2 linked regions of the Homo sapiens genome follow. The gene in region 1 interacts genetically with each later gene. Each region holds a gene or a part of one and is shown in the gene's direction. Other genes may lie near its edges.

Region 1 (5,428 bases):
AAGCTTGTGGCTCCCGAAGTGCTGGACTGTGGAGTAGTGTCAGTTCATGACAGAGTTTTCCTTTGAGTGAAAGGAGAATGTAGTTGGCTTCTTTAAAGCTAAATCTATTGATATGTTTTTCTAAAATTATCTTTTGCCATTTTCGATGGGCGCTTAGTTCTTTTATGAAATAGTGGTGATGGGTAATCGGTAGTTTTTGTTTTTGTTTTTTAAATGTCCTTGGCAGAATAAAAGTTGGCAGCCCTATGCTGGTCACCCTCTCCTTCCTCGTGCCCCTTTTTAAAGATTATGGTTCTGTGAAATCCGAAAATCTTGGCTTAAACAGAATCTGAGGGATTGGAGGAGACTATTCATCCACATATTTATGCATATTAAAGAAGGTTTGGGGTACATTCTGCCCTTGTGTTAGCCTACAGAGGACGTATTGTGATTCTCGCCACCATTGAATTTAATTTTGTCAAGATTCACAGTCAATACTTATAACATATTTCAAGGAGCAGTTCAGACTGTTTTCAGTTGAGTTCACACAAGTAGCTCTAAATTACTTGTTTAAGACTGTGTTTCTCAACCAGAGCCTCTGGAGAAAACTGTTGAACTGTGGGCGCTGCCTGGGGGTGCTGCTTTAAGTTATTACTCTGTTGATTAGCCAACAAGATAAATAACTCGCCTTTGACATAGTGAAGCAGCAGAAATTGGCTTTCCATTTCACTTCTTCTGCAGGAAAGATAGAGCAAGAAAAGCCTTTTTATTAATACAGCAAGTAAACCTTGTACAAATATCAGTATTCAAAATGCTTTCTAGAGAAAGAATAGTGCAGCACTGTGCGTAATGGGTTATGTAAGTGGAGTCACAGAAGTCCTCCTGGGGACACAAACCAATTATGAACATAAGTGCTTATTGAAATTGCATCAGTTGTCTAGATGAGGAGCTTATTGACTCCCTGGTTCACTTGGGTGGGCAGGCGGCTGTGGGGGAGGGACGGGGGGGGGTGTGGGGGTGGGGAACTTAAGGTGCAAACCTAGCCTAGGTGACTGTTAAATTAAGGCTTAACATTTGTTTCTTTTGAGTGTTTTTGGTTGCGTAATTTTAAAAGTTGGGAATGCTATAGAAATATTTAAATTCTATTAGAATGTCCAAGGCAAAATGTTCAGGTTAAGTAGAAATAGCTTGGACCCTCTGTTAATTTTAAAGAAAACTGTGGGTTTGCTGCTTTAGATATTAAAATGATATGGGTTTATAGAGTTATGTTGTGTATCATTGTTGCTGGTAAATAAAAAATGTTTAATTCATTTATTTTAACAGTGCTTAAATTTTTCTCTTAAAGTACTCCCAATGGCAGAAATGTGGATGAATAGTACCCTCAGAAGTCTAGGAATGCAGCCCAAAGTGTGCCTGCTATAAATTGAAGTTTTTGATGCCTGTAGGGTTTTATATTTTAAAATTTATATAAATGTTGCATTTTGCTATCTTACATGCATGTCGACAGTATTTTAAAATACTTTTTTTTTTTTTTTTTTTTTGGTTTGAGACGGAGTCTCGCTGTGTCCCCCAGGTTGGAGTGCAGTGGCGCGATCTCAGCTCACTGCAAGCTCCGCCTCTCCTGGGTTCACGCCATTCTCCTGCCTCAGCCTCACCAGTAGCTGGGACTACAGGCGCCCGCCAACACGCCTGGCTAATTTTTTGTATTTTTAGTAGAAACGGGGTTTCACCGTGTTAGCCAAGATGGTCTCAATCTCCTGACCTCGTGATCTGCCTGCCTCGGCCTCCCAAAGTGCTGGGATTACAGGCGTGAGCCACCGCGCCCGGCCTAAAATACTCTTAACTAAAATTGATGCTCCTAAGAGAGAGTGCAGTGTTCATCCTGCGGCTTTTTATATCCCTATGACATGGCTTTATCACTGGTTAGTAGTACTGTGCTTAAATATTTAATAGTAGCTTATTTATTTATTTATTTATTTATTTATTTATTTATTTATTTATTTTTTGAGACAGAGTCTCGCTCTGTTGCCCAGGCTGGAGTGCAGTGGCATGATCCTGGCTCACTGCAAGCTCCGCCTTCTGGGTTCACGCCATTCTCCTGCCTCAGCCTCCCGAATAGCTGGGACTACAGGCGCCCACCACCACGCCCGGCTAATTTTTTGTATTTTTTAGTAGAGACGGGGTTTCACCATGTTAGCCAGGATGGTCTCAATCTCCTGACCTTGTGATCCGCCCACCTCGGCCTCCCAAAGTGCTGGAATTACAGGTGTGAGCCACCGCGCCCGGCTGTTTATTTATTTTTAAACCCTGTGTCTGATGGTTTTTGTTGGAACATAGGAGATGGTAAACAATTTCTGATACTTCCTATGTATTTTTAATAAATAGCAAGCTGTTTTAAATACTACTAAGAAGCTGTAGTTTCATAGAAATAAAATGACTTTTAAGGGGGATTTAATCCGTTAAAATTTTTTTTTCTATTTAAGATTTTAAAATTATCAATGTATTTCTATCATAATAAAATATGGTAGTACTAAGAGCTTTCTGAAATGATGGAAATGTTCTATGTCTATGCTGTTCAATATGGTGGCCCCTATATAGCTTCTGAGCACTTAAAATATATCTAGTGTTATAGGAGAACTAAATTTTTAATTGAATTTAATTTTAATTAATTTAAATATGAATACCCACATGGGGCTGGTGGCTACTGTATTAGTGCAGCTCTATAAGGTTAGGAAGACGAGAGAGAAGAGAGATCACACATCTTCATGACACCTCTCACCTCACATGTAGGCAGATTAGGCACTCAGTAAGTATTTGTTGAATGAAATAATTCATCTTTTTCTTTGAATTTTGAAGACCAGTGTTTGTGAAGTATTCTAAATTTTTGGGGAGGAGCCATAGATTTTTGAATTTTTTTCTTCTATATTGATTTTCAGAATTTACTTTTATTCTTACAAAGACATACATCATTATGTGTGTGTGTGTGTGTGTGTGTGTGTGTGTGTGTGTGTAAAGAATTATATAATGAACTACCATGTATGACCAACCACTTTAAAAAACAGAACACTGCCAGCACCTTTGATGGCCGTTCATGTTTCTCACTACTTGTGATCTCTGACATACTCTTTAAGTAACCGCCATCTGAATTTTATATTAATCATTACCTTGCTTTTTGTTTTAATTTTATATGAATGTCTTTTTTTTTTTTTTAACATTTCCCTCTGTCTTGAAGTTTGGAAGTTAAACTCTGTGTAGCTTTATTTTAGTTCTCCCTGACCTCCAACAAATGAGATACTTTTGTTTTAAACACTGTTACTTTGATTTGCCTATACACTGTATTTGCAGATGTCTGCTTATTCTCATTTGCATCTGAGACCTCTGATCTAGGACCATTTTTCTTTGTGTGAAGTACATCTTTTAGAATTTTCCCTAGGGAGGGTGTGTTGGAAAACTTTTTGTTGGAAAATAACTTTTTCTTAGTCTCATTCCTGAAACTGGTTTTCCTGAATATATATTCTAGATTAGCAGTTGTTTTTTCTTTGTTCATTATAGATTTTATTTCATTATCTTCTGGCTTTTATTGCTGTTGAAAAATACACAGTGTGATTGACAGTCCTTTACAGTTAATCTGTTGTTTCTTTTTTTTTTTTTTTTTCTTTTTTTTTGAGACCAGTCTTGCTCTGTTGCCAGGCTGGAGTGCAGTGGCGCGATCTCAGCTCACTGCAGCCTCTGCCTCCTGGGTTCAAGCAATTCTCCTGCCTCAGCCTCCTGAGTAGCTGGGATTACAGGTGTGTACCACCACGCCTGGCTAATTTTTGTATTTTCAGTAGAGATGGGGTTTCACTATGTTGGCTAGGATGGTCTCCATCTCCTGACCTCATGATCCACCTGCCTCAGCCTCCCAAAATGCTGGGATTACAGGTGCAAGCCACTGTGCCTGGACTAATCTGTTGTTTCTTTATGGCTAGTTTTAGAACTGCTACTTTGTTCTTGGTGATCTGCATTTTCATTTTTATGTTTGGAAGTTGATTTCTTTTTATTTATCGTGCTTGGTATTAACTAGGTTTTCAAATCTGAAGATTAGTGTCTTTCAACAATTTTGGAGAATTTTTGGCCTTTTTCTTAAATTTTGTCTTCCATATTTTCTGTTTGGAACTTGTATTTGAAGTATGTTAGATCTTCTTACTCTACCTCCGTGTCTCTTAACCTGTCTTTTATATTGTCCATTTCATTATCTTTGTGTATTGTATTGTGTTCTGGATACTTTTCTTGAAGTTAGCTACTTCTCTCTTCAGCTGTGTTCAACCAGTTTATTGAATTTAAAAACTTTTTATTTAACTATTATGCCCATTTTTTTCATTATGGTTAAATACATATAACATAGAATTTACCATTTAACCATTTTTAAGTGTACAGTTCGGTGGCATTAAGTGCATTCACATCATTGTGCATCTGTCACCACTACTGATCTCCAGAACTTTTTCATCATCGTGAACCAAAACTTGTACCCATTAGACAGTAATTCCTTATTTCCTCTTTTCTCTAGCTCCTGGCAACCACTATTTGAGTTTCTGCCTCTACAAATTTGACTATTCTAGGTACTTCATGTAAGTGGAATCATAAAATATTTGTCTTTTTGTGTCTGGTTTATTTTACTTAGCATGTTTTCTAGGTTAGTCTATGTTATAGCATGTTCTTTGAGTTTTACAAATTTATGTTAGAGATGGGGTGTTGCTATATTGCCCAGGCTGGAGTGCAGTGACTCTTCATAGCGGCGATCATAGCACACTACAACCTCAAATTTCTGAACTCAAGCCATCTTCCTGTCTCAGCTTCCCAAGTATCTGGGAGCACAGGCATGTGCCACTGCACCTGGCCATTGGGTTTTTAAAAATTTCATTTACTATATATTTTTGTTTCTAGACATTTTATTCAGTTCCTTCTTAAGACTATCATCCTTTTTTTGGGTAGTCTTATTCCTTTTCTTGGTTATGTTCTCAATATTTCTTTTATTTCTTAAAAATCTATTAAATATACTTACTTTACATTTTGTGCCTGATAATCCAGTATCTGAAGTCTTTGCAGACATGATTCTGCTGTTTGTTTCTGCTGGCTGTTGCTTATGGTGCCACGCCTTCTTGTCTTGTAATTTTTGACTGTGAAGTTCTCGTAACTTTATGTTAGTTTTGCAGAGTGATTTTTAGTAGTACTTAAAAATTTTATTCCTTAGAGCTTATAAGTAACCGCCTGGAGAATAGTGTCCTATTTTCTTAAACGTTTTATTTTGAAATAATTTCAAACTTACAGGAAAGTTGCAAGAATAGTGCAGTAGACCTCTGTATACCCTTTATCCATAGTCACTAATTTTTAATATTTTGCCATATTTTTCTTTTTGCATACACACATTTATTTTTTTGTGAACCATTGAAGAGTAGATTGTATGCCTTTT
Region 2 (4,464 bases), on another chromosome or scaffold:
TTTGCTTTGAAACATTTATTCTAGGCTGCAAATCCACAACCCTAGTTGGCCTTCCATTAAAGTCACTAATTCAGCAGTCCCATATTCAATATGCATTACTGTTAATATGTTGCACCATCTCCATTCCCCTGAGAGCTTATATTTTTAATTTTTAAATTTTTATTTTTAGAGACAGTGTCTCACTCTGTCACCTACTTATTATAACCTCAAACTCCTCGGCCCAAGCAGTCCTCTCACCTTAGCCTCCCAAGTTGCCAGGACTACAGGCATGCACCACCATGTCCAGCTAATTTTTAAATTTTTTGTAGAGACAGGGTTTTCTATGTTGGCCAGATTGGTATTGAACTCCTGGCTTCCACGATACCCCGTCTCAGCCTCCCAAAGAACTGGGATTACAGATGTGAGCCACTGCACCTGGCCAGAGAGCTTATATTCTTATAGGAATGGGAAGACTGCCTATGTTATGTGTTGCTACATAATACATTACCCCCAAACTTAGTGACTTAAAACAAACGCTTATTATCTCCATTTCTGTGGGTCAATAATCTAGGCATGACTTAGCTGGGCCAGAGTTTCTCCAAAGTCTGTGATCAAGGTGTCAGTTGGGCTGGGCCTGCAGTCATCTCAAGGCTCCACTAGAGGAGCATTCACTGGCAGACTTATTCAAATGGCTGTTGGCTGATCCTCGATGGCTATTGGCCCCTCTATTGGTTTCTTGCCCTTGGGCCCCTCCATAGTACTGCTTGCTATTCACAACATGGCAGCTTGCTTTGCCCAGAGCAGGGACTCTGAGGGAGGCAGGGAAATAAAGAGCAAGAGAGAGGTCACAGTCTTATTGTAATCTAATTCTGGAAATGACAGCCCATTACTTTTGGCATATTATTTTGGTTAGAAGCAAGACAACAGTAGATCTAGCCCACACACGAGGGGAGGAGGATCACACAAGGAGGTGAATACCAGGAGGTGGGGTCATTGGGAGCCATCTGAGAGGCTGCCCACCACACTGCCTCAAGTAACTAGGGAGAGGTAAAAGTTTATATGCCAGATGACCAAATATTAAAATGTGTGTTACAAATAGTTCACGATGGGCTCAGCTGTCAGACTTTACAAAGGAGCTATGGGACCTTATAAGGACAGTTGGAACTGGCTAGGTATCACATAGTGGTCTTCAAACATTTTTGCTTGCCATAACCTCTAAAATAATTGGGAAAAAGTTGAATGTACTTCCATATCTTAAAGCTGATAATTTAAAATATTATACATTTAATAGCAGCACGGGATTTAGTTTTTGTTAAATTGTATATGTGCTCCAAATAGATTTACCATCAAAACCTGTTTTGAATTTAATATTGGGAGAATTCGCTAGTTTAATTTTTGGAAAATAAAGTATAATTGGCAAAGCTAATCCTCACTGTTGAATCTATCCGTCAAATCAGATATAATTTCTATCAGAAAGTCTATATGACTTGTCAACATAATACCCATAAAGTGAATCAAAAATTATTATTCATTGAACACATCATCTCTTATCAAATTCTTGTGACCTTCCTTCTGGTTGTATAATAGCCTAAAAAACAAAAAAAGGACAAAAGCAAGTTTCCAGAAAGCTGTTCTGACTTGCCTACTTCTGAAAAGTAGTCCTGTATGGTGGGTTCTGAAAATGAGGAACCAGGACTTGCAGAGTAGGCAGTTGCTGGAGGAAGAATGTGAGCTGCATGGGAAAAGACAGGAGGATTTACAAAGAGTGGGTGTTTAATTGGGGATGGAATTAGGTAGTTATTCTGATTTTTAGATTTTTCATATCTTTTATTTGGTCCAATGAAGCAGAAAATTTAAATGAAGTTATTACCTTTGCCTGATTTTTGACACACCTCAAACTATAACTTGAGGTTGCTAACTATGAAACACTGGCATTTAATGATTTAAAGTAAAGAATTCTGTAATTTGTAGACTTCTGAGAAGTTCCAGAAAATAAATCAGATGGTATGTAACAGCGACCGTGTGCTCAAAAGAAGTGCTGAAGGAAGCAACCCTCCTAAACCACTGAAAAAACTACGCTTTGATATTGAAGGATCAGATGAAGCAGATGGAAGGTAGGAACCAGTTTTGAATGTTTTCCAGTAGCCGAGATGGTCATCTGGGGAATCCAGAGTCTCAGCACTGCTCCTGGCTTATACCAATTTCTTTCATGCCAAGTTTATTTGGAAGTTGTGAGAATGGCTCAAAATAATAGATATGAGTGTAGTGCAAAGTTAAAAACATCTTACAAATTGCATACCAACATTCAGTGAAGATATCTAATAAACCCTGATCTTTTTTACAAAGCTATTGATAAAATTTTGTTATTCTTAACATTAAATTTAAAAATGTTTACTCTTGAAAAATATTAACCACTGTATTTTGTGAGAACCACTGAAAAAATACATAGCATCATAAATTTGTGACATTTATGTTTTAGATGGTTAGTTTTTAAATTTTAAAATTAAAAGCTACTCACTAAAATAATAGCATAAAGTAAGTCATCGAAAGCATCATAGTTACTGGAAATTTGAGTTTTCCATTTATAAATACACATGAAATGTTTTGCATTTTTTTAATCTGCAGTAAACATCTCCCAGGAGAGTCCAAATTTCAGCAGAAACTGGCAGAAATGAGTAAGTACTTTTTTCACCTTGTGTAAATGAAATAAACAATTGTTTACACTGCAAGAAGTCTTTTCGTTATATAAAAGAATGTATAATTTCTTCAGTTGGCAGGTTTGTTTATGCATTTAAAATATAATTCAATCAAGGTTATTTATCTACAAACATTTGTGGATTAAATGTATGATGTAAAATGAAGGTCATTTTTACCCTTTCTATGATCTTTCATGCAGGAAGACTAAGAAGTGAAACATTGCTTGACCACATTCAACACAAATGGCTACAGTTAGAAAATACTTTAGCAGAACTACAAAGAGGAGCTATTTGGGAGTGTTAGATATAGGGAAAAGTTTTATAAACCTAGCATATGTAAACATCATCACCCTTATTTAAGGAATAACCTTTGATTCTACCATTTTTAAACTTTCCTTATTTGCAAATCTTAAAACAATTTCAAACAAAAGTTTCCATTACTGGAAATCAGAATTTTAATAAAGAACACTTATGTCATTTTCCAAGTTATACAGAGTGATATCATGTTAGGGTAAGTGGAATTCTATTCAAAACTACTCTGAGACTAGACAAAAAAAATAATCCAAGGATAGTAGATGGAAAGCACATTAGGAAAGAGATAAATGTTCACTAACTACTATTGGGTTGTCTTAGGTAGTTATGGTAGTGAGTGTAACATTTCCCAGTATCTGCTGCCAGATCCATTGATAGGAAAAGGAACTGGGATTTTGAAAGAAGACAAATATTCAGGAGATAGGTGTTAAAACAATCATTCCTAGGTCACAGGACACACTAATGAGAACAATACCAATTAAAATGAGAGGCTTTCTTTTAATACATCTTTGTAGATACTAACTTTGAAAATAAGATATTTAAAAGGATGCTTTTTTTCTATGTATTTTTTTAAAGTGTAATTAAAACTAAATAACTAAAACAAAATTTTCTAGTTATAAATGAATCTCTTTTTGGATTTTATGTCAACTTACATATTCCTATTTTAACTCTTAAATAGTTGCATCTTTTCCCCTCAGTACATGAAAATAGACAAGAGGCTCATAACCAAAATCAGGCCTTGAAGACATATGGAAACATTTTGGAACCCACAAATATGCACTTAAAAAGGAGCTGAAAGCTGTAAAAACATGTATATTTTCTTAGAGAAGTGTTCAGTTGCTATAGTTAGTACATTTCCCAGTGACACACTTAGCTATGATGGCGAGCTTCCTCTGCCAGGCCAAAGTTCAGGACCTTTGTGCATCTACAAAATTGTGACAAAGCAGGCAGAATTTTAACCCCTGAGGCTAAGGCATTTCTTTAGGATGCTCTTCAGCTTTTCTTAAAGAATTACATTTAGAAAAGATCATCATACAATGCTGGATTGCCCAGAATGGAAGGGCATTCCATTTTTCCAAATGTGCTTCTTTATAAAGAACTCATGCCTACCTCTAAAATCAAGTTAAGAATTTTTAAGAAATTTAATAAGTATCCCGGCTTTGTCTATATTGTAATTCATAATATGCTTTTAACATGGCCATGCCCCGGGTAGGCATGATGGCTTATGTCTGTAATACCAGCACTATGGGAGGGCAAGGTGAGAGGATTGCTTGAGGCCAGGAGTTCAAGACCAGCCTGGGCAACATAGCAAGACCCCATCTTTACAAAAAAATCCAAAAATTAGCCAGGCCTGGTGGCATGTGCCTGTAGTCTTGGCTACTGGAGAGGCTGAGGTGAGAGAATTGCTTGAGCCCAGAAGGTCAAAGCTGTAGTGAGCCATGATCATGCCACTGCACTCCAGCTTGGGCAACAGAGC

The links. Genes that interact genetically often act in the same process or in processes that back each other up.
Region 2: changes in FRS2 (region 1) and RB1 together harm fitness more than expected from each alone (negative genetic interaction), as found in Homo sapiens cells (one large-scale study listed by BioGRID).

The regions. Positions count from the first base shown.
Region 1 is NC_000012.12:69,475,774-69,481,201, forward strand, and holds part of FRS2 (fibroblast growth factor receptor substrate 2), read left to right. Parts: intron 1-4,525; exon of another isoform or gene 4,526-4,586; intron 4,587-5,428. UniProt on the Homo sapiens protein: Adapter protein that links activated FGR and NGF receptors to downstream signaling pathways.
Region 2 is NC_000013.11:48,474,751-48,479,214, forward strand, and holds part of RB1 (retinoblastoma-associated protein), read left to right. Parts: intron 1-1,699; exon of another isoform or gene 1,700-1,772; intron 1,773-1,950; coding exon 1,951-2,093; intron 2,094-2,604; coding exon 2,605-2,654; intron 2,655-4,464. UniProt on the Homo sapiens protein: Tumor suppressor that is a key regulator of the G1/S transition of the cell cycle. The hypophosphorylated form binds transcription regulators of the E2F family, preventing transcription of E2F-responsive genes.